Linked DNA regions of Homo sapiens: region 2 is linked to region 1. A link means that fine-mapping ties the variant in region 1 to the expression of a gene that starts in the linked region. Tissue or cell type: whole blood. Region 1 holds a variant in brackets; the other region holds the start of a gene. All regions are shown on one strand. Distances are from middle to middle.

Region 1 (12,800 bases):
TATTCATCATTGAACTCCAGTTTTTTCATCTTTAAAAGAGAGCTATGACAATCTGCATCCTAAGGTAAGGCTTGCAGGGTACACAGTGAGAACACTCGGAATCTCCACATGCATCACAAATGCCAGCTGTTGTCTCTGTAATGGCAACTCCTGCCCGACAGGCCTTGAAGTGATCCTTGTTCAGCTAGTTCCTAATTTGTGGCCTCTTGCTTTGCATTTGGGCCATAAACTATGGCATTCAGGTCCTCAACAGGGGTTCCATGTGATATTTGCTTCTGGGTCTGCCTTATGTGGACAGTAAGCAATTAGACTTAAGCCTAAGGAACAATTTTGCTTATGCAATATAATTAGAAGCCATCTCTGTTTTTTCCTTTGTTTTTTGTTTTTGAGAAAGAGTCTCACTCTGTCACCTAGGCTGGAGTGCAGTGGCGCAATCTCGGCTCACTGCAACCTCTGCTTCCCAGGTTCAAGCAATTCTCCTGCCTCAGCCTCCTGAGTAGCTGGGATTATAGGTGCCCACCACCACACACGGCTAATTTTTATACTTTTAATAGAGACGGGGTTTCACCACGTTGGCCAGGCTGGTCTTGAACTCCTGACCTCAAGTGATCCGCCCTCCTCGGCCTCCCAAAGTGCTGGGATTACAAGTGTGAGCCACCGTGCCCAACCTAGAAGCCAACTCTGAATGGTGTTATAATTAGAGGTATAGTTGAGTTTCATTCAACATATATTTATTGAGCACCAGGCATTTTATACATAAAGATAAATGAAGCAAAGTGTCCTTAAGCATGCATGGTATATGAAATCAGGAAGATAAACATGTAGATAATTGCAGAAGGTGTGATACATACTCTATGTGCACACAAAGGCTGTGAGGACAGAAGAACAAAGTGTAAGTAGCTATGCTTGGTCGGAGGAAGGGTTCAGGGAAAGCCACATGGAAGACATAGCACTGGACTGGGACCAGGACTGAAAAGATGATGTTGCCTTGGCAGACAACTGGAAAAACATCATAGGCAGAGAGAAAAATGCCTAAAATATCTACCAAGGTGTTTTGCAACCAGTTATGACCCTGATTCTGATTTTCATGCTTCCTACCTATTTCACCTTGGGTAAGTGACTAAACCTATCAATCATTTAGTCTTTCTTATTTGTAAATTGATTCTAATAACACCTTTAAAAAAGGTATTGACATTGACATTACATTGTGGGATTTCACTAATCTAATGCTTGGTGTATAGAAGGTACTCCATAAATTTCAGGCCTGAACTAGCAGAGAGGCATGGCTTATTCATGGAATGCAAAGGACAGGAGGAGGGCAGCATAATTCAGTGTTTTAATGAAGGTGCCCAAGGGTAAAACCCCTGGGAATTGAACAGTGTGCAGCATGAGTAGATGCTGATGTCTGTGAAAGAGACATCTTTCACAGGTTTTGTGGTGGTGTGCTTGTTTCTTGTTTAGACCGTCAAACTGAATCATTGTGGTGCCTTTCTCCCCTCTCTCCAGACAACTATTCCCTGTTCATGCTCTTGAGGACGTTATCGGGTTTTTTGGAGCTGAGATCTCTCGCTTCAATGTATGTGGTGGCCATAATTTTCTCAGCATAGCAACCTGTCCACCAGGACAGTGTCCCGTTGCTGGGCTTTCAGCAGCACAGTGGATAAGCTCTGCAGTTGACAACCATCCACCCTGGCTTAATGTTTCACATGACTGAGGTTGTACTGGGGAAGCCAAATTCCAAGAGGAGTGAATTATGTACAACTGTTCCAAGAGCATCTGTTCAAGCTCCCGTTCTAGGGCCCCGCATACTTAACTCCACACTTGTGTACCCAGCACACAATCGTACTTTTGACCCTGGAAAAAATCATCCAGCAGACAACAGGCGAAATAAATATCTCTCACCAGGTACCTAATGGAAAACAAGCGGGTGGCTCATGTTCACTGTGCAGCTATCTTTATTTTTAAGGTCTCCTGAGCAAGAGGGCCAAAGTCCAAACTTCCCAAATTCGTAGTATTAAGTTACTGTTAATAGGACTGCATTTAAACTACTGCACTTTAGGCTGCCCCTCCAGCTCGTGGTTTTGTTTTTTAACTCCGGGCTTGGGTTTGGAGCAACAAGGTTAGCCACCTGAAACAACAACATTTGCCTAATCTAGTGTGATCTATTTCCCATGCGAAGATTGCTTTCTGTGTTATTTTATTTTTAAAGGGAGTTAACATTTAACGTACACGATAGCTCGTTCCTGTCGCCCTGAATGGCTCTGTTTGTTTCAGCACGTCTCTCTACCATGCTGTTGAGCCCCTCATTTCTTAAGGTTCAGGAAACTCTAAATATTAATGAGGGCCAAAGACCCATGCATTTGGCAACTCCTTCCCCACCACACACTCCATTAACCACAATATCCGAAGGCATTTTGTAAGTTGGGAAACTTGACTAGGAAAAGTATAGCACCATTGCAATTTGGAATAATGGCATTTTTTAAAAATGTCATTTATGCAGAAGGAATTGGTAGAATTGGCTGGCCAATAGTTTATATGAAGCAACTCCAAAGATTTATAGAGATGAGTGGTTCTCAAAGTGATCAGCGGTATCAGCATTGCCTGGGAAACTTGTTCGAAATGCCAATGACCAGAGCCTACCCCAAATCTGCAGAATCATAAACTCATCAGAGAGTCTGAAGTGGGGCCTACCAGCTGGTGACTCTGATACTTGTTACAGTTTGAGAACTACTAACATAGACATAACCTCCTACCTCGTAGAGCCGTAATAATCAGCATTAGGGAAACACAAGTGTACTTCAGGGAGCTTAGGACTGAGGCCCAGACAGTCCTGAATTCTATTCCCAGTTCTGCCACTGAATAGATATTGACCTTAAGTGTGTTTTGCAATATATCCGGGCCTCCTATTTCTCATTTATAAAATTATTATAGAAATGCATTCCATTCTACTTGACTCCTTGAGTTTTGATGCTATTAATAATAAATAATACATTTAATAATATTTTTAAAAATATTTTATTTTAAATAATAAAATGAATATTGCTCAAAGTGCTTTGAAACATTGAGAGGGCTTCCCATGGTGACCAACCTGTGGCAGCGCTTTATTGCAGAGATCTCCTTAGTTAATCAGTCTCTCCAGGTATATGGGGATTTCTGAAATTCCAGACAGATAATCTTATCACAGTGCTAAAGTATTCTGTCCTATAAATGGCAACAACAAAAAGCCATTCATTTCAAGTGGTTAGTAGACCGATAAAATGAAGGAGGTGTCAGTGGAACTTGAAGGATGAGTTTGGCAAGCAGAAATAATAGCACGTCCTTCTTGGAGCCAAGAGGGAGCAACCTGTGTTAACTAATGACAGAGCTGAGGATATATAGAGCAGAAGGAGTGCATGATTGTGCATAAATGCTGGTGCATGCATGTGTGTGTGTGTGAGAGAGAGAGAGAGACAGAGGAGAAGTAAAAAAAGGAGGACAGTGGCAAGGTGGGAGCATGCAGCTCCCATCTGTACCTAATGGTACTTTCTCCTTTAGAGAGTACTGCACTCCCCTCAATCCTCACCCAGGCTGTTAGGTTGACACAGGAGGAAACTGAGGCCCAGAGGACATAATTTATCTCCTTCATTGATACTGGCATGAGAAGAAGCTGAGGCAGAAGCTGAAGGAATGGCCACAAGAGCCAAGGATGGGCAAGGAGGACCTTGATGCTTCTCATCCTGCTGGGACCACTGACCACATGTGGACCTCTCTGCAACTTGAGCAAGGGAGTGTCAGCCTGGCTGACAAAGACATAAGCAGAGCTGGCCAGGGCATTTCTGTGCATGTTCATCCCAGTCTCAGCAGAGAACAGTTTCAATCCATGGTAATGCTCCAAACTTGGTCCCCCCAACACTTCCAGACACCCTTGCTAAGTCAAACACTAAGAGATGCTGGACAGTATTTATTTTTGTCTCTCTGTCTCTATTTATTCTTGTTGAAATAATAATATTCCAGTTAGACCATTTAAATAAAAATTCTATCTCCATGATCTTCAATACATAATATTTTTCGCAATCTTTCCTTTTATTTCTTGTCCACGGTTTTTTTACACACTTGTAATCATAACACACATATCCTCTTGACCCTTCTTTTTTTATTGCTATTATGTAATAAACAATTAGACTTGTTGCTATGGTGTTTCCACGTTATTCATTTTAATAGCTACATAGTATTTTATTCAGAAAATGCACCATAAATTATTGAACCATTTCTGTTTTTTTAGTTGAACTCCCATTTTGTACTAAGACATTCATTGTAGATATATACAATAATGCACTCCATGTTTACTATGCCTTTTGGTACTTTGGTTAATATTTATTTCCTGTTATGTTTTGATAGAATTTGGAAGGTAAGCATCCTATTAAAAATAGGACGCTCGTTGTTATCATAAGAAGTTCCACAAACATTCCGAATACTGTGATGTTCTATTTATATCCATCTACTCAAATACATGGACACTCGGCTCCCTTTTATGGAGTTTTGTGCATTTTGCCTCTTCTCCCTCTCCCTTCCCATTCTTCACTAGTTTAATCTTGGGAGTCTGACATCTTTGCTTAAACACCCCCCACACACACACCACCAGCAGTTTGCTTCTTGTGTCCTGTTTCTAGTCAAAAAGGAGTTAGATTGCCAGTTTTCTTTCTCTGCTTTTCACTTTTCCTGTTCTCTTTTTGCTATAATAATTGCCCATCCCATTCCTTTCTTTTTAAATTTAGCACTTGATTTCATCACTCATATTAAATATTCTTTTCAAGCATTTTCCCCTCTATTCTGTTCTTGTTGTTAATGGATTTAGGGAAATGTGGGAGTCCCTGGAAGGAAAGAGCACATCAGGGCAGCATGAAAGATAATTACAGGCCCCATGTCTGAGGTCGCATTCTTTACTTTGGCCACTATTAAATGAGCTTATTTACAACCCTCAACTTTATCCCTCTCTTTTAAAGAGACGCATATATACATTAAATGTAATACCCTCACCCCCAGCTTCATTTAATTTTACTACCAATAATATTCCCTTTTCAAGGTGTTGGGTCTACCATTTACTTGTTGAATTTTATTTTGTAAGCTGTCTCAATTTAGTTTTTGAAAGGAATGGAAAAACAAAAGAATGGACGTCTACATGATCAAATGCACATAGATTTCACAGTGAAAAAAATCATCGAAAGACCTTCCATGATGTGGCAACTCAGATACAATTGATCTTTAAAACCCAATTGAACAGAATGCCTTAGTAATTATTATTCAGAATACCAAGGCCCTGGCCCATGGTACAATTATCAGAAGCTCCATTTTTGATATTTACTGCATGTTAAGAGAACTCTCTGGAGAGGAACTGAAATAAAACAGTCTCTGGAATCACTGACGAAAGTTTCCCCTAAATGTCTGCTACATACTCAATGCGGATGAGCTGTGGTCCTTGTCATGCCTTCTCACACAAGAGGAAAGATGGTAGAATGGGAATTTCTTCTTTTCCTTGAGTAGCAAAAATTGGCCTGCTATTTACCAAACCCACTCTCTTTTTCTCCTGAGCACACAACTAGGAGACATTTTCAATGTTCCCTGAAGTTAGGTGAGGTTACATGACTGAGTCCCGGCCAATGAGATGTGTACAGAAGTGGCAAGTGCTACTTCCATGGTGGTCCACAATAGTCGATTACATGTCATTTCCTATGCTCTTTCCTTTAGTTTCAGATTCACCCAGATGCCTTGGATAATTTGTTTTGGAAAACATATATTGAAGATATCAGAGCCACAGTATGACAGAAGACTAGGTCCCAGAATCACAACTGGAAGGAAAGTCATGCACTAATGAAGAAAACAATTCTTAAGGCTTATATGAGCTGAAAACAAACTTCTGTCATGTTGCTGCCTTTATCCATTTTTAAAAGATGTTTGTCATCAGTAGTGCTACTCTAATAAAATACATCATGAGCACAATAACTTAAACTGGTCTCATTATAAATCCTAGATCTCCTATCATCACAGTTTAAATCCAGACTACTGGTGTGGAAAGGTATATAAATGCCTTCCAGAATCTGAAAGGCATAATTTTGTTCACTTATTTCAGGTTTTACTAAGGATTCCATACCCTTGGCTTCTGTTGAATTATTTCATACACACTATTTTGTAAAGTAGATAGAAGATGTGCCTAGGATTTAGGGTTTTTAATGTCTTTCCATCTTCCCAGGATGCCTATATAGTAATCATTTAAAATACAAGACAATCCAATAAGATGACATGAAGCTTTCCATGAACTCGAAGAACCAATGAGAATAGATCTCTCTAAAATATTGGTGAACAAATGAATACTTGCCAGAGTCAGAACAATGAATTTTAATTGAATTATTGCACCCACCAGGCATTCCAGAGCCAAAGCACTTTTCCTTTTTTAAGTAACAATTTTGTCTTTTAAAAAGTGTATTTCTAGCTTGACATAAGCATGACTTTTTCTTTCATGTGTCATGTATAAATGGAGCAATTTATTTTCTTTGGACTCACAGAGTAAATCCTCATCTTTGCTTGTGCTGATGGGGTGCAGGCATGTGTGGGAGGAATTCTATGAATGTGGAGCTTTTCCCGTGGGTGCAGAGAGAGTTTGATGGGAGCTGATGAGGTGTGTGTGTGTTCTTCAGACTTATCAACCACCACATGATGCTGGAAGATGAGCCAGTGAATTTGTGGGTGTTGAGCTTGTTGGATATTCTGGATGCAGGTTTTTTTTTTTAATTTACTATTTAATAAAACCCAGCTGACAAGCTTTTTTTGTAAATCATGTTTATGAGATATGAGTCAGTGATGACATATGCATAAGCGATTCCAATGAAAGGAAAACCTTTAAGGCAAGTAGTCCTTGGTTTTGTGGGAAGCTTAGCCAAGCATGTTGCTCTAGCCTCTGGGGTGAATTCTTTCCTAGCTACAGTGAGACGAGAAAATCTTCAGAGCACATTCCAAGATGGGGCTTTTTTTTTTTTTTTCTGTGAGAAGGTGAAGACAGAGACCAGTTTGGTTTGGTGGTTGTCATTCCGACTTCCCACACTGTCATAACTAGGACATGGCTGTGAAAGAACAGCTTGAAGATGAAGCAAACCCTGTTCTAGTAGCCGGGGAGCCTTTGTTTAGTTTTAGTTTAGTTTTTTGTTGTTGTCGAAGCTTTTGAAAGTCTTCTCTGAAAGTGGTTCTGTGTAGTAGGGGGGAGAGACAACTTTGTTGTTTTCTAAGAAAC[A/G]AACAAAAAACCTGCTTCTTTGAATCTCCCAAATGCAAAAGCAAAGATACTTTCCTTGTACCTTCCTCCAATTCCTGCCACGCATGTTTGGGTCTCATCAGACTTCTTTCCTTACTGTGCCATCCAACGAAATGTCATGGTCCTTGAATGGCTTTATTAAATATCAGATGGCAAATACGTATGCAGTCATGAGGCACAGGAAATAGCAAACCATCCTGATATCCTCTAAATAAGCTGAACATTTCACTTGAGGGAAGGTATTGCAGATATTCCAGATTGAGGAAGAGAACACACCCTCTATAAATTGAAACCTTTCATTACAGTTTTTTAAAATCTCATATTTTCATTAGGAACTGGAAATAAGATCAATTTTCTCTTGGGAACTATATTGAAAAATATAAAGAGACAAATATAACCCAGGCAGAGAGGAATTGATGGGCACTCAAGTAGGAAATTTTTTTTAAATAAAAACTTACCTGCCCATGGTATGGTTAAGCTTGACTCAACTGCAAAATGATTTTTGTCATTGTTAGATGCCATAAGGTATTATATTAGCAGCCTAACCTACATGAGAGATTGTATGACTCAGGAGTTCAAACAGATCATCAATATTATGGCTAGAACCAAGGTTTTTAACAGTTCAGGCTACTTTCAGGAAAACTCTTTCCAAGTGTCATATGTATAAAATGTTTGGAATTCTTATTTAATGCATTCTATTATTTAGAGGGCTTGCTTCTATTATTCAGGGGCTGAATAGTGCTTTGACTTAGTTATCTACAAAATGCAACTTAAAATACAAAGGAGGGAGAGAAAGACAGACTTCTGTCAGAGGTATCCTCTGCAGTAAAACCTTTGTATTTTACTTCCTAGAAGAGCCCAGGTCTTGATCTGAAGGATCTTGAACTGCCCCAGGCATGACTGTGTGACAAAGCAGTATATTAAAACAGTTGAGCATAACCACTGGAGAAAAACTGCTACTTTTTGCATGAGTTTTCTGCATCGAGTACAGCAGCTATATCCTACTCAGTTCTGAGCATAAAAGTTTAAAAGTGAAATTGACAATTTGGAATTTATCCAGAGAAGAGCAACTAGTATGTTAAGTATTATAAAACCAGAAAACTACTTCAAATGAGGAGATAACACTGAAAGAAAAGGAGACATTTAACTGAAGAAAGAAAACTGAATGGGGACCCTAATTCCGTTTTCAAGTATAAGGGAACTGCCAAGAGAAAGTAAAATTTGATGCTTTCTAGGTAGCTCCATAGAGTGGAAAATTAAGGAGATTTCAGTTGAATGATTATTTAACTGATAATTAAAATAAAATGACCTGTCTCATAAGTGACTTCTTATCACTGGAAGTAATCAACAGAGATCCTTGGTAATCCTGACAGGGAAGCTATAGGTGACATTTACAATGGATGAATGTGGTCAGATTGTTTCTATGGCTCTCTTTCTGCTCCAGCCTTCTGCAATTTCATAAACCATCTGTTGTGGCTTTTTCGTTGTTGTCATTTGTTTGTTTTTAAGACAACCCTATTAAATTGATGTAGAAGAGCCAAGATTAAGAGACTGACAAAGTTTATGCTGAAAAAGCCCTGTCAATGGATTTGATGACACGTAGATGTTACGTGATATAAGCACAGTAAGCCTTTCCTGTTCTCATTAGTTCCTCATACTGATTATGTCCAAGTTTCTCTGAGTAGGTAGCCAAACCATCATGAGCTTTGGAGGTTTTCTCCTTCTCACGGATGTCTTATTAAAAGAAAATTCACCAGCATCTAGCAGAAAAGTACTGTTTTCCGTATTTTATCATCTAAAGTGCCATACGACTCAGACATTGTATCACCGACTTACGCCTCACAAAAGACATATCAGGTTGTTACCATTCCCTTTTTGCAAATGAGAAACTGAGTCTCAGTGAAGTTGAGGGTCATCTGCCAATAGGCTTTTATGGAAGATATTTTGGAATGGAGAGAAAAGTCAACTTTCTTGTGTTTCCAGGATGTTACTTCAGCATGTCCACTGGATACCTAGGTATCCAGTAGGATACTACGTATCTGGATAGATCAAGGATACTGAGATGCTACGTATCTCAGCAGATCTGGTGGAGAATTCCTTAATTTACTGGAAAAGAAAGACTAAGCCAACAACTCTTTGTGAGTATGACAAAAAAGATTTATGTTTTTGCTGAATAATTTTGCCTGTGTTACCTACACATTAAGGATTTTATTCCTCAGTAAATCATCTGTAATAAACCAACCATGTAAAATTTCCTGTCACTATAATCTTGATGTCTTAAAAATTAATATCCATGTGGATTTACAAGTTTAAAGACTTTTTCAGATGAAAAGTCTCATTTTTGAATTATTTTAAATGCCCAAGAAATTTAAAATACCATCAAAAATATGAAATACTTGGAATAAATCTGATGAGAGATGTGAAAACCTTTGAAAATTGAGTGATTTTAAATATAATAATTGACAATTAGAGCTTTCTCTTCTATGATTGCCTAATTTATTCTTTGACTATATTTTTTGTCTCTTTTTTATCATTTATGGAAATTCATCATTTTGTCTGACATAGCCATTTAATTTTTTCCCAATTTTGGTATATCAATTTTCATATTTCATGTTATTTTTTGTCATATTACTTATTTTGTTTTTTAAGCATTCAGGTTTCAGGTCTTTTTTACAATGTTTTACCACACTTAGATTACACTTACAGAGCTTTATTTTATTGATTTTTCATAACAGTTTATAATTTTTTTGGAATTTAATTTTTAAAAGGTATTTTCTGAAATATCTTTTCAGTGTGTTTCGTGTACAATGTATTAAACAGAAAATCATTTTTCAGTTCAATTAAAATTTTATCTGAAATAAATTAGATTATCACATTCTGGATTTTATTTATTTTCACTGATCTATTTATGCATTTATATTCAAGTGCATAAATGACATTATTATATTCCAAATAACATGTTTAAACTTTGTGTTATTTTAATACATCAAAAGCACAAATCTTTCCACAGTAATTTCTTATATCACAGTTTTATTTACTCTGTGTTATTATCCCATTGCATTGGAATTTTAAGAACTTTTTATAGAAATCTTTGTCTTTTTCCTTCATCACTGAAAAAATGAAATTCTTATTGGAATTATATGAAAATTTTATGTATGTTTTGTTAAAATGAGCATTAAGATATCACAATTGTTTTCAAAAAGTATACATGTTTTCATTTCAAGAAATTTTATATTTTTCTATATAGGTCTTATATCTTTTGTGTGAAATACATTCTTAAATATTTTATAGCTTTGGCATATTTTCACAAAAAAAGTTTTTCGGCAGGGCACAGTGGCTAATGCCTGTAATCCCCGCACTTTGGGAGGCTGAGGCAGGCGGATTACCTGAGGTTAGGAGTTCAAGACTAGCCTGGCCAATATGGTGAAACCCCATCTCTGCTAAAAAATACAACAATTAGCTAGGCGTGGGCACTGGTGCCTGTTATCCCAGCTACTTGGGAGGCTGAGGCAGGAGAATCACTTGAACCCAGGAGGCGGAGGTTGCAGTGAGCCAAGATTGTGCCATTGTACTTCAGCCTGGCCAACAGAGCGATACTTCGTCTCAAAAAAAAAAAAAAGAAATTTTTCAGCTCTTTTTATAGCTGATTATTTCTAGGATTGGGGAAATCTATTGATATTCGTGTGCCTTTAATTCAGCCCCCACACCAAATTAATTTATTCAATCTAATCTTTTTTTGGCCAATCATTGGATTTCCAAGACACATAATCACATCATTAGAAAAAAATATTAATAAAAGGTATTTATACTAATTATTTAATACTGTATTATTACAAACATTGTACTTTACCAGGAATGTTGAATAATGGTAATACAGACAATAGACATCCTAGTTCTGGAATTTAATAAGAGCAGTTTTAGCACTCCTGTTGCTAGAAATATGTTTTTTGTTAGTGTGTGATAAGTAAACCTCATTATGTTAAATCATTTTCTTGTGCACATATTTTACTAAGATATCTTTTTATGGCTTTTCAATTTTATCTAGCATCTTCTTAGGATCTGTGAATATATGACAATATGATTTTATTCTTTAATTTGTTGAATTGTAGTATTTCTGATATTAAACTATTCATGGTTTCTTATAGTAAGTTATCCTGTAATAGTTTCAAAACTCAAGTTTCCAGGAGATAGCGCCATTTAGGAGCTCTCAAAACCCAATGTGATACTGTATCTACTTTTCTGTAACTTACATTTTTGTGGAACACTCTATTTTTGAGGTTCCGTTAAGTCCTTTAATTTTGCTATTGTACAGTAGTGTTTAAGTATCTAAAAGTTGAGGTGCGTATACCCGTTTGGGTGAAAATATAAGGCATTGTTTTCAAAATTGGATAAACATTGAAATCACCTAGAAATATATATTTTTTTAAAAGACAAAAATCCCAGTTCCTAGACTTTATCACAGATCAGTGACTTGAGAATATTGGAAAAAATAATCCAACCACCAATATTTTTGCATCTTGTTTTATGTCCTTCCATATCCCCATCAATGTGTAGTGTTGCCAAGTTTTTTGTTTGTTTTTGTTCTTGACAATCTGTTAGGCATAAAATTGTATCTCGTTGTCATTGTAATTTTTATTTACGTAATTACCAGTGGGGTTGAACATCTTTCCACACGTTCCTTGACCATCTGTTTATTCTCTTCTTTCAACTGCCTTTCAATTTCCTTCACGTATTTTTATTTTGAATAGCTTTTCTCTTCCATAATAATTTGTAGAAGTTTGATTTTAAAATATTCTGAATAATAAGCTTTTGTCATATATATATATATGTTGATCACATATTCTCTAATTATTTTAGTTTTTGTCTTCCTTTTAGTAGTTTCTTTTTAACACCAGAAGTTTTAATATTCAACTAGATTAAAATTACCACTCATTCTTTGTAGCTCTCATTTTGAATCCTGTTTAAAGAACACATTTCAAAATCTGAGACTATAAAGATGATCTCCAGTATTTAATCCTAAATACTGGAAATATTTATGAAATAAATAAATAAATATGGTGTAGGGTGGAGATGTCTGTGGTTTCTTTTCAATATGAATAACTTATATTTCCCTGTTCACTTAATTTATATAAGATTTAACATGTTTTATTGAAAACATGAAATGTTTTAGCAATTGTGGTGTTCAAATAAGCTACAGCAATATTTCACTGTATGAATAATAATTTTTGTATTTGGTAGATCTAGTTCATTGACATTGTTATGTAGCTCAAAAATCATTTTGTTTATTTTTGACAACTTTTTCTTCTACATACGTTTAAAACCAGCTTCTCTGGATTTTTGAAATATTCTTGGGATTTTTTTCACTCGTTTTGAATTTCTTGGTTACTCTAGCAATAATTGCTGATTTTGTCTTGGGGGTTCTTACATAAATTTTTAAAGTTCTCCATTTATTAAATTTTCTTTAATAAAAATAAAGTTTAAATTGAAATTGAAATAAAGTTATAATTTCTTCCATAAAAAT
Region 2 (12,800 bases), 180 kb before region 1:
TGGGGCCTCATTCAGGAACTACGGTGAGCAATGAATACAGATTTGTTGCCTCTGTCCCTCTAAACTCATATTCTTAAAAAGAACAAAAAGGGCTTGAAGGAGTTCTTGTAATCAAAATCGGCTGGGAGAGAAAGCAGGGCCCCAGCAGAGTCTGCTAAATAGAAGGTAATGAGTTAACGGCATAAGCCAGTTGCCTGCATCCTGTCCAGCTGTCTCCTCCAATAACCAAGACCTCTGCACTGCCATGCATTTGCATCAGCAGTTTCCTCACCTGGAATGCGGTCTTTCCCACATTTCCTGAAATCCAGTCATCTTTCGAGTCTTGGCTCCAAAATCACCCCTCCTGTAAAACCTTCCTTGACTCTCCAAGTCCTAGGGAGAACTGACATGTCCCCACCACCCCAGTTCTCATCCCACCCAGCACGGACCTCTATTCTGAGCTGGTAGCATTTCCTTTATAGGTCCGTTGGCTATCTAATTCATCTAGATATTAATAGTACTGAGAATTGTGACTAATACCTAATATAAGCTTAGGTAAGAGCTACTGAATGAGTGCATGGATGAATGAATTATAAATGACTGATTCTGGCTGCTGAGTGTTCTGCGGGTAGAATTTTCAAGGCCCTGCCTTTACTGGCATTGAAAATGTCAAAGAGGTTTGCAGCCACCTTCGGAATTCAAGACACCTAATCATACATATTCATTGGGTCACAGAATATCCTGGTACCTGTCCTTTGAGCACCAGATGACACCTTTAGAATAGTAGCTATTTGTTTTCCCAAACACTTGAAAATTGCAATATTCACTTCCTTTTGCCCTCCTAAGATTCCTTCCCCTCATCTGGACCACAGACGGCAAAAAAACGTCCATTCAAGACTTTTCTAGGAAGCTGTTGTTAGGAGCAGTCCATCACAGTACCCAGGTCTGGACAGGATGAGACCTACCTCTCTTCGTCCTTAAAGATGAATTTCCGCAGCTTGAGGTCCCGCAGCACCAGCCCCCCGTCATGGCAGTGGGCCACTGCCGAGGCAATCTGGTAGAACAGTCTGGCTGCCTCCTCCTCTCTCAGCTTCTTGCAGGTGCGGACGAAGGAATGCATGTCCCCATAGCTTCGCTCAAAGAACACATAGGCTTTGGTCTCACCCAGGATAATTTCAGTGATTTGGTTGATGTTACTATGAGCAGACAGGCAAAAGCACGGTGCCAGGGATTCCTGGTAGCAGCTGATATCAAACACCTACGACAGGATTAACAGTAAGACCAAAGTCAGAGGTGCCTCTTGTACAACCAAAACACATAATGCTGCACCTCCCACAGGTATGGGCTTTTGAGATGACAGAAAATATGCTGAACTTGGACCCAGACCACATTGGCCCTGCCTCCTACCAGCTGTGTGGCACTAAACAAGTCACTTAACCTCTCGGAGCCTCCAAATCTTTACGTACAACATGGGAAACTGATACTTGACTCACAGTGTTAGGAGGATTATATGAGAAAATGAAGGTGATAGTGCTTTGCAAAACGTAATGCAGTACAGAAATAATAATTTTCATTACTTTTGTCTCTAGCCCAATTGCGTGTTTATAGAACTAAGGCAAAATTGGAGAGAAAGTGATCCACCTCAATGACATCAACAACACTTTATTTGCCTTCAAAAATAAAAAAAAAGAAATGCACATAAACAGGCATTATACAACACATGAGCAACTAAGAGAATAAACAGCTAGCTTTTGCCCAGTGGTCTCTAATTCAATACTTTCATTTTACAGATATGGAAACTGAGGCTCAGAGAATGAGCCAAAACTCAAGCCCCCAGTGGCAGAGGTAGGAATATGATAGAATCCTTCTGAATAGGGAAGCAGCCTTGCTTCTTCCTCTCTTCCCTCCACAGATATCTAACTCAATGAACCAGTTATGCAATGATTTTCTATGAATCAAAATTAGCCTGCAAAATGCCAACTCATTGTGCGGTTGCTTAAAAAGAAAAGGCACCATCAATACCTTTTGAAACAGACCTAACAGCAATTAACACTACAGAGAATTTTTGAGGTTATATAAAAGGCGCTTTCATTCATTTCAAGACCTCCACTAAATCAGGAATACAAGTCCCTGGGTCTGGAATGTGGTTTTTCTATCTGCCTGGGATGTGGGTAAGATGAATCTATTCAGTGTGTGCGTGAGCCAGGGGCATGCGTGGGTGAGCTTCGCTGGAAAGCATCTGAGGCAGGAACGCCCTAACAATACACTGCATGCTATCAGTTCACAATGATTTAGCTGCCTAAATCGCTTTTTCACTAGTTAGACATACTTTCTTTCATCATCATTTTGCAGTGTGGTAGGAAATATGCTGGACTGGAAGTCGGCAACCTTGAGGCACTAATCCTGGCCCTGCCACCAATAATCTGGATGAGATGGATAAAGAGCTTAGGGTTACTGGACCTCCCTCCTCTTCATAAAATGAAGATGTTGATTTAGAACAGTGTTAACCTTTTTTGGGTCCTGATGTCACATAAAATCTGATAAAAGCTCTGTTCCCTCTTAGCTGACAATGCCCGTTCTCAAATGCATGCACGATACCGGATTCATTTTAAGGGGATTCACGGGCTTTCTGAAGCCCATCCAAAGCCACAGACTGCTATTTAAGAATCCATGAGTTAAGTTGCTCTAAGCTTCAAAAAATTGAAACAAAATCTGTGAGTCAAACAGGGATGTAAAACCTCAAGAGTTGCTGCTAACACGGCCAAGGAAGCAAAGTTAACAGTAATGTTGTGAATGAACCATAACGAGGCATCTCAGAAAAGCGGCACAGCTGCTGCCACTATAACCTAGAATTTAAGAAAGAATACTTCAACATCTCCAGAGACCACAAATCACACACTGATACTGTCAAATGATGACCCAAGAGCAGTGACCTAAGAGGCCTGTTCAATTAGGAATCTGAAATGCTTGAATCAACTTTAACACCCTGAATGCAGGCAACAGAAACCCAGGGAAGCCTCAAAAATTTCGAGGAGTAATAAGCTTTGCAGTGGCTAACGTAAACACTGCATCATATAATGAAGATGCTGTGTTCTGAAATACCAGGTTGCAGCTTCTGTCGCCAGTGCTCACAGAGTTATGATTATTTATAATCTACTTCCTGTTTCCAGGTGCATTTACAAAAACATAAAAGGTGACTTTTGCTCAGCACTTTTAGCCTATTATCCTGCTCCACTGCTGAAAAACTGGAGACAGAATTTTTAAAAAACTAACATATTTGTGGCAGCTTCAAATGTAGCCATACCTTTTGTAGAAGAGACCAAATTCCAAGATGGTGGACAGAGTATGAAAAATAAAATAAGTACTTATGTTTTCCCACACGAGAAGGAGCCAAACTTTTATTAGTAGCTATCAGGGGCATTTAGGGGCTTGGACTGGTATTTAAACCATCATCTTCACGTGCAAAATCAAGCCACAAGCCTGGTGCCAGCTTCTTTACATGTTTAATTTGGAGCCTTGGTTATGTAATGTGACAGTTCAGATAAGGCAGTAAGATTAGGCCATCATTAATAACATTTGCAAAAAAAAAGTACCCATTCTGCCAAGATAGTAATTATGTCAATCTGCACAGTAGCTACCAGTATCTCCATGAAAACATACAGTTAAAGACTCCTTAAAGTGCCTTCATTCATCTAGCAAAAGTAGGTACATGGAGACAATAAGCAGCCTTGATTATTTTGTTTAAATGACTCTGGAATCTCTATTCCTCCAAATAGTGTCCTATGGAATTCTCTACGCAGTCCCCTATAATAAATAGCATCTTTACATTTGATCTGTTTTTGCAAAGAATTTTTTCATTGGTCAACACACAGCTAGGAAACATGAGCCTTCTATTCTAAGACATCAAAAGGAACTAGATTCAATGTGTAGATTTCACTGAGCCTTAAAGTAAGCTAAGAGACCACAGCATATATATCTCTCAGGGCAGTTCAGAGAAGCAGCCTTATAAAACTCTCTTGGAGCTTCTTCGGAGATACACAACTATGCTTGCATAAGAAGTCACCCACATCATCTATGGTAAAAAGTCAGGAAAACAGAAGCTGCTGTGTCTTAAAGGGATGACCTCTGTCAAGCAGAACAATGATACTGCACTTAAATCCACTTGCAGCCACACTGTAATTGGTGAGGGGCTGATTCAATCTTTGCAATAACTAAACCAGCAGATTAAGTCCAATTTGAGGCCAGAGCACAAGTCTGCAAATGACACTGTAAGGTCAGCCCAAAGTGAAATATGTCTTGCAAAATCTGGAGAAAGAATGAGCAGAGGCCAGAGTCACCTCTGATTTTAAACAAAGAAGTAACAGCCAGATGCCCCTGCAGAATTTGGCTGCAGAGTCCCTATACTTAAAAGCATCTCCAGCCTTTGAAAAATATTAAAATGCTGTACTGAAGTTGAGCAAAAGGAATGAAAATATTCACTGCTGGGTGATTGTGCATATTTCATACAAGAGTGGCAGTTCTGTGGAATTCATTCATTTCAAAGGATGACTATCCTATTGTGCAACCTTGCAGACTTCTGAGAATTCAATCCAGCTACTGAATTTTGGTTAACTGGGCACAGTTGCTCTGGGTCTCAATAACTTAGAGAAGATGCAAAATACCAAATGCTCAGTACAAGCAAAGGGCAACATTTAAAGAGTCTCCGATTTCCCCCTAAGGGCTGAACTGAACAATCGCAAAACTGACTGGAGATCTCCACTAAACCCAAATTTTGCAATGAAATACTCCAGTCCACTAGGAAATAAGGCAAGTCCGCAAAGTAGTCTGTGGTGAATGGCAAAAGCGCGATGTGTTATTTGCAGCACAACCGTGCCCAGTGACCATTTCAAAGGCAGAATGGGTCCCCCACTCTCCCCTTACCCCCTCAAAAAAAAAAAAAAACAGTCAGCAAATCTAAAATTAAGTGACAAAGAATCCTTGATCTAGGTCCAATTCTGGGTAGTAGTATGCTCTATTATAGTTATTTTCTTTTTCGCAACTATTTCGCCCCTCATCCACTTGTCTGGGGCCCGGTGGGTGCACACAAAGATACACAGACACACATATACATAAACCAGTCACTGTTCAGGGTTAAAGACAAAAAAGGAAACCGAAGTGTCCATCGCAGTGGTATTACCACTGCGGATCCCTAGGGCTCCAAACGGGAGCCTCTTAACCTTACAGGCAAAGGTGTTGTTCAGGGGGGCACGGAAGAGAGGGGATGAGCAGACAGGGAAGTCTAGAGATGGGGAGAGAGACCAAGACCAGAGAGAAAGACCCAAAGCATTCACTATTCACCAGAAAGTGCTCAGGCTTTGATTTCCACCCCAACCCTCCTTTCAAGGCTCCAGGCAGAAGAAAGGTCTTTGTAAACTCCTTCCCTGCGCTGGGCCCCTGGGCTCAGCCGAAGGGGGCACCTTTGTGTGTCTGTTTTAAAGGGCACCTTCGGAACAAAGGTTTAACACCTGCCCGCTGCTAAGAACAATGGCTGCGAAAAGAACGAAGTCATCAGTCTTAAAATTACCGGGGGATTCCCTAATCCTTGTTGGAAGGGGAGGGGGCTAGACACAGGAAGAAATCCCCCCCGGGCAGCGGGACCCGGCCTCGCGCAGAGAGCTCCTGGAGCCTTCGGTGCACGCGTGTCCGTGGCCCCCGCGCAGTCCCGCCGCCCTCTCCTCCCCGGGCTCTCCCCGAAACGCCCCCACTGCCGCCCGCCCCATTGTCTGAAACGGTCTAAAAACTTCGCAACTTACCGAACCTGAGCAAATAAATAAATAAACCCATTTAATAAGGCCACGGTAATTATCCCGCGAATCTCCCTCTCCCAGACTCGAGGGCCTGGCGCCCTCCCGCTCCCTCGGGCCCCTTCCAAAGACAAAAAGCAACCCACTGGCCCTTTACCTTGCACACCAGCTCCTCTCCGCTGTGCAGATGCACGGCACGAAAAACGTGGTCTCCCTCCAGAGGTTCCAACAATAAGTATTTCCCGATACAAGAAACGCAATGCGACAAGTTCGGAGTCTCGGGCGGGCTCGGGGAGCCGAGGTTCGGGCTGAAACTCTGGCTGGGCTCCGCGGACCTTATAGACGACAACTCTTCGAAATCCTGGGTTTTGTTCCGCGATCTCCCATATCTCGCTATTGTGATGGGGGTAGACCTGTGTATGTTCATGAGTGTGAGGATCGCACACGACAAACAAAAAAAAACCCGCTGGAGAGATGAGTCGCTGGCGAGTGCGGCTGCAGGCGCCTCGGTGCCACTGATTTTAAAAGGGAGCGAGAGGGGAGGGGACAGAAGAGGGGCTGCGTGGAGAAAGAGTTAGAAGCCCCCAAATGGGCGCCGCCGGATACCTCGTCTGCTCCGAGCCCGGCTCCCGGGGGTCCTCGGTCGGCAGGCAACTCGGGTCTTTTTGTTACCCCAAAGCAGTCGGCGATGTGCAGAATCGCCGCACTTTTAGTTACTCTGTGTGTGTGTCCCCGGCGTGGATCTGGATGAGTACCCGGGCTGCTAAGGTGCGGAGCTGCAGCGCCAGGGCTCCCGACGCGACCCCCAGGCCGGCTTCCGAATCGCAGACGGGGCGGAGGAGCCCGCGGTAGTTTGTGCAGTCTTCGGGGAGCTCACGGCGGCGACTCAGTCCCAACGCGTTAGAAGCCAAACAAAAAGAGAAAGGAAACAAGCACGGGTCTACCGGCTGGCGACGCACGGCAGCCAGAATCCGCGCTGCACCCCCTTTTTTTGGTGGAAAGGGTGGGGGGCGTGTAAGGGGGGGGTGCGGGAGAGGGCAGTTACCTACGTTTTAACTGTAGATGGCGTCTGAGGCTTTTCCAAGATCGCGAGCTCTCCAAAAATTAAACAAACAAACAAAAAAAAGAAAAATTGCAAGGGAGCATTTAACTTGGTGCGGTCAGCGCTGCCAACAAAAGATTGCAAAAGCTGGGCACAGAGTTGCGGCGCGGGCTGGGCGCAGGTACCGCGACAAAGCCCTGGGCTCGGCCCGCCGCGCGGAGGTCAGCACAGGCTCATGCTGTCGCCGCTCGCTCGCGCCCCAGGTCTTCCTCCGAATGCAGCCAGACGTGCAGGAGAGAACGAGGACAGATCGGCGGTCTCCGATTTCGCCGGCACGAGCTTGCGGGGGTCCTGCGGGCGCTGCAAGGGGAGCTGCGTCCCTGGCCCTTCCAACGCGCGGCGTTCCTTTGCCCCTTTCCCGCTGGAGAACTGGATCTCGTCCTGGAATAATTTGCAATCACCCCGTCTCCCCCTACCCCGAGACCAAATTGCCCGGTGGGGTTTGTTTTGGAGAAAATTGACGGCTTGTCTCCTCCTTCTTTGATTTCTTGCTTGCCCCCCCCAGAGAAAAGAGGGGACCGTGTATTTAAAAATTAAAGGGGACGGCCGACGGTGCCCGAGGCCAATCCCCGCGCTCAGCACGCCCGCATCCCCCGGCGAGGCGGTATTAATAGTTACTTACGTGGCCGGGGATCTCGGAGCGAGCGGGGCCGTGAGTGCGCGTGTGCGCGCGCGCGCCTCGCTCGCGCTCGGTCTCCCCATTCAATGTCACCGACACATTTCCACGGAGCCTCCGCCCCCCCCCCGCCGCCCCCGCGACTGGCTCAGCCCAGAGCCGGCCCCGCCCCGCCCCCGCCCGGGCCCCCCTCATTGCGCCGGGCGCCCATCAATCAGCCCCGCCGCTGCCAGTCCTCGGGCGGCTCCCCGCGCCGCTGCCATTGCAGCTCCGTGCCGGGGGCGCCAGCACCGGCCTCGCAGCTCCCTCGCCCGGCCGGGGAGGTAAACAAAGTGAAATATCCTTCCGCGGCCCGGGGCCCCGGGCGCAGCACCCTGGGTGTCGGCTGCGAGCCGGCTGCGAGCCCAGCTGCGGGCGGCTGGGCCGGGGTTACCAGCAGCGACTCCCGAGCCGTTCCCCACACGCTGCTCCCGCAGCGCCCGCTCCAGCTCTTCGTAGCTCGTTCATGTTCCTGGCGCTTTTCCCCAGAAAGCCAGGCACGCTCTGAGCATTGGGCCCCCAGGCTCAGATGTGGCCCTGAATGAGGAGCTCTGTTTTGGAAGAATGCGCTTTCATCGGTATTGCTGCCTGGAGTTTCGAGAATTCGTTTCATGGTATCTCTCCGACATCCTCCTCTCCATTTAAAAGGAAATCCATTGCTTCCTTTTAGTTGGTGTCACCGCTTGCCCCCGATCCCCACATCCTGGGCTTGTATTTCTAGTGTTTTCAGCAGAAGAGGAACTGAAGGCATCTTTTGATTCAGGTCAAATTTAATCACTAATTCTTCCCTTCCCAGTGCATTGCCTGGAGGGCCTTGGAGGCCAAGCTAGACAAAACTTTGCACCCACACCTCCAGGGAGCGCTGTTGGGTCCTATCCAGGGTGCTGGGCGTCCTGAGTCCTCTTCTGTTAGCCAGGTGAAGGCTGCAGTTTCACGCCCCACTCCACCCCCCATTTCGCCACCCCCCCCGAATTATTCGTAACTTCCTTGGGAGATTCCAGTCCGCGGGCTTGGACAGGAACACCGGAAGCAAGGGGCTTGAACTCAGGCAGAGGCTTCAAACGCCAGCCTTGATCTAAGATATCCTGGTGAATGAGAAGCGATCTAGTAGAGGACAAACTTAAAAAAAAAAATCCCAAGGAACTGAGAAAGGGGAGTTGGGACGACTCCTGGAGCCCTCTGAGCTTTTGCATGCGTGTAGTATATTTTCCACTGGAGGAGGGGACTAAATTATTGTCCACTGTAGGACACTTTCAGTAAAAGAAGGGAGCTATTTATAATTATGTCCACTTGGGACAACAGTCACTCTAATGATCAGGAGTCCTGGGAATGTGGCCAGAGATGGAGAGGACATTGACTATAAAGCTTCCACCCAGCAGCACAGAGTTAAAAGGAAGGTTAAGAAGTGGACCCGTGCCTTCCAGCACCTCTCACCATCCTACTCCCCACAAACCTGCCTAGGATTCAGTCCCAGATCCCAGCAGAATAGATCTATTTCCCTAGGCGATCACCAGGACCACTGACCGAGCAGGGTCCCCTAATCCAGTCTTACCCCAGGAAGACACTTGGCCTGTGTTAGGAACAGTCTCGAAGCAACCCCTGCTGTTGAGTCAGAAAGAGAGGTGCCTAGCCTCCTCTATGCAGTGGCCAAGAGAGCTTTGTAATAATTAGGGGTTGGGACACCTGTGTGCTAGCCCTGGCTGGGTCTCTGATTTCAAATGGAAATTGGGTGAAGACCTTGTTTTTTCTCCCTAGATCCCTGTTTCTTCATCTGTAAGATGAGAAGCATAATACCCGCCCTGCTCACCTCATGTGGTTGCTTTAGAATTATATTTTCAATTCCAGGAAATCTATGAAGGCTTACTATAAGCCGGGCTCTGTGCTGAGTGTTAGGGATCCAATATGAGTAAGATCTGGTCTCTGCCACCCAAGAGCGCAGGGTCTAGCCCGGCAGAAAGACTGGGAAACAAATAATGTCATTGTGTAACAATGTGGCAATTAGAATATCAAGGCCTCAAGGGAGCATGGAGGAGGGAATGACTTTTCCTGAACGTCAGGGAGTTTTCCCAGAAAATGTGATTTTTATTACCTTGAACTAATCCAGAGCAAATATTTATTGAAACCTACTATGTGCCAGACACTGGATATGAAGATACAATGATTTGAAAAATATATTTCCTGTCTTCATGGACCTTGAAATAGCCCTATGAGTCATAAAATAAAATGAATAAGAGATTGTTGTTGGCATTTCAGGCAGAGGGAAGGAATGTGGAAAAGCAAGGGAGTGGGATGTTCTGAAATTTCTAGTAATGCACCATGTTCCAGCAGTGGCAGCTGGGAGCAGTGGCCAGGCATGTGGCTGGCAAAGTGGACTGATTGGGATTAGATCGGGAAGGGGTTGATAGACACAACTAGCAACAGTGGTCTTCCTAGTAGAGGAGATGGCGAAGCACGGCTGACATTGGGAAGTGACACGGTCGTTTGTGGGATTTAGATCCTGCTGCAGATCACAGGGAGTAGATACTACTGGGCTTCCAAGGAAAGAGAGAGCAGAAATAGTATAAACCTCTAGTGATGCTGTACAGGATTAATAGTGAATTTATGACTTGTGATGAAATTACACAGTGGCCATTCTCCTGCCTGTCCTTGAAGGCCAAATTCATGGCTTAGTGCTATGTTTGTTGATTAAATTCACGGAGCTATTGCAGTGCAGGATAAATTAGATAATTTGTATCAAGTGCCTTAAATATTTGTTATGTCTGTTAACTCGGTAATTCTTAGCAAATTGGAAAAGAAAAAAGCATGTAGTAGGAAGATCTGGGTGGGGATCTTTATTCATTCACTTTTTAGCCATATGACTTTGGTCAAGTTTGGAATATTTTAATCTATAAAGTGAAATTACAATAGAAATTTTGTCTTAATGTATAGCAATTATGGAAGATGTGTATAAAGCATCTGGCACAATGTCTTGCCTATAATAAAAACTCAAGGCCGGGTGTGGTGGCTCACACCTGTAATCCCAGCACTTTGGGAGGCCAAAGCGAGCCGATCACGAGGTCAAGAGATCGAGACCATCCTGGCCAACATTGTGAAACCGCGTCACTACTAAAAATACAAAAATTAGCTGGGCATGGTGGCACATGCCTATAGTCCCGGCTACTTGGGAGGCTGAGGCTAGAGAATTGCTTGAACTTGGGAGGTGGAGGTTGCAGTGAGCCGAGATCACGCCACTGCACTCCAGCCTGGCAACAGAGCAAGACTCCATCTCAAAAAAAAAAAAAGCAGCCGTTACTATTTTACTATTGTTGTTGTTGGAATTCATCCACAGAAAGCAATCTAACATGAAGTAATAGTAATAGATAACATGTTTACAGTATTGGCAAGGTGTGTGGGAGTTGTTAAACATAGTTATAAGAATGGTCCTATACAGTATGCAACAATAATAAAATATGTGGCAATTAAAAAAGGATTATATAATTACAAGGGGATATATTTAAACCAGTCTACTCTGCAGTAGGACAAATCCAGTTGTCTTGGGTCAGTAACATGTTGTGCATGTTTTCTAGAACATTCTTTATTCTGCAATATATTTAGCTGCTCCTTCACTCACTCATTCACTTTATTGCTCATTAGTTCATTCATTTACAAACACACAGTGGGCCTCTGCTAAATGTGAAGCCCTAAACTAAGTGCTGTGTGTGTTGATCAAATAATAATAAATGCTTTTGGAGAAGAAACCATAAGACTACTATATCACTTTAAGGCCTTTACCATATGTGACAACATTTCCCGTGTTTCAACTCGGGCAGCAAGTCATGTGTAGGCTCAAAACTATTTGATAAACTTCTAGTTTAAGTTGTAGAGAGTTTCACGTCATGCTGATGTGCACGCAGACTGTGGCCTGCTGAACTCCAGAACATTCCATTCTCACTGACAGCTCTGTGAATGAAACCCTGAAGTTGTGCAAAATGCAGTTGTCCTGGTCTGTTTGGGCTGCTATAATAAAATATACGCTGGTGGCACATAAACAACAGAAATGTATTTCTCACAGTTCTAGAAGCTGGAAAGTCCAAGTCGAGGCATCGGCCCGTTTTGTGTCTGGTAAGGGCCAGAGTCCTGGTTCATAGATGGCACCTTCATACTGTTCTCACGTGGTGGAAGTGGCAGGACAGCTCTCTGGGGTCTCTTTTATAAGGACACTAACCTTATTCTTGAGGTCTCTGCCCTCATGACCTATCACCTCACAAAGACCTCATGTCCTAATACAATCACGTTGGTGATTATGTTTCAACATGTGAATCTGGGGGGACACAAGCATTCTGACCAAGCAGCTGTTAGAGCCTTAGACATAAACCCATTGGCCTGAAATTCAGGAACTTCCCAACAACTTCGTCTCTCACTTTTGGTTACCTACCGGCCAGCTGCTCATCACCCCATGGACTCCAGGCTCCTACTTTTGTGTTTATGACTTGGATCATTTCCTCCTGCGTATTTGGTGCCTCCATGTTTCCCTGGAATCTTTTCCAGGATGTTCCCTTCACCTGGCTGCACTCCCTCAGTTCAAGGTTACATTCCCCAGTTCTCTTATTTGGCTATGTGGATGTGTCAGGTTTTAAATGACATGTTCAAAATCCAGGTGACATGGTTGTGCTTGGACAATAATGAAGAGGTTTGTGGTGTTAATGCCTGAGCTCCAATCTAGATACTCCTGATGATGGAATCTACAGATTGCCTAGTGTCAGTCAGTAAAGGTAGCCAAGAAGATAAGTGCTCCCACTTACTGCTTCATGCAAGATTTAACCAATCCATGAATGGGAAACCCAATCAGGATACATCCTGCTCTGTAATGTTTTAGAAGGTGCCATATCTTAAACTGAGTCCTTCACCATTGCCTTAGTTCTACTGTTAGTGTTACATTACTTTGCATTCAATTTCATACTCCCTTGCTGCCTTCCTTGAATGTTCTGCTAACTTATGAAGAGGTTCTGTCATCCATTTGTGTAGGTAGAGAAGAAGGAAGAGGTTCAGGGAAGAGGTGCACACCTTCATAGCTGCAGCCACTGGTCCACGTGATCCACATGATCCTTTGCTTTGAAGATAGTCATGCTGCCTAGCTGCATTTCGGTGGTGATGGAGTCAGTGACTTGCTGCTATGCTTTGGCTCGTGTTGACTGTGTTAACTCCTTGTCATAAATTGCCCCATCACTTTGAGAATATTCTCTGTTACTAACTTTAATAATAGTTGTATTTTAATTATGCCTTTTGAATGCTAGACCAGCTA

What was found. PIP is the estimated chance that this variant, and not a neighbour inherited with it, causes the effect.
Region 2: it holds the start of TRIB2, and the variant in region 1 is fine-mapped to the expression of TRIB2 in whole blood (TOPMed, PIP above 0.99).

Annotation. Positions count from the first base shown.
Region 1 is chr2:12,528,902-12,541,701 of GRCh38, reverse strand. The region is part of intron 4 of MIR3681HG (MIR3681 host gene); the gene reads right to left. Among named protein-coding and RNA genes, the nearest start is that of TRIB2, 180 kb to the left of the region's middle. The variant A/G (reference allele first, on the strand shown) is at 7,262.
Region 2 is chr2:12,711,697-12,724,496 of GRCh38, reverse strand. TRIB2 (tribbles pseudokinase 2) reads right to left here and starts at 7,561. Exons shown (of 3, transcript NM_021643.4): 1 at 5,920-7,561; 2 at 945-1,237. The coding sequence starts at 6,189. It overlaps LOC124905974 (a long non-coding RNA gene), which reads left to right and starts at 7,739. Exons shown (of 2, transcript XR_007086222.1): 1 at 7,739-12,800. RefSeq lists enhancers at 5,095-5,732, 7,094-7,163, 7,012-7,651 and silencers at 7,604-7,663, 7,754-7,973.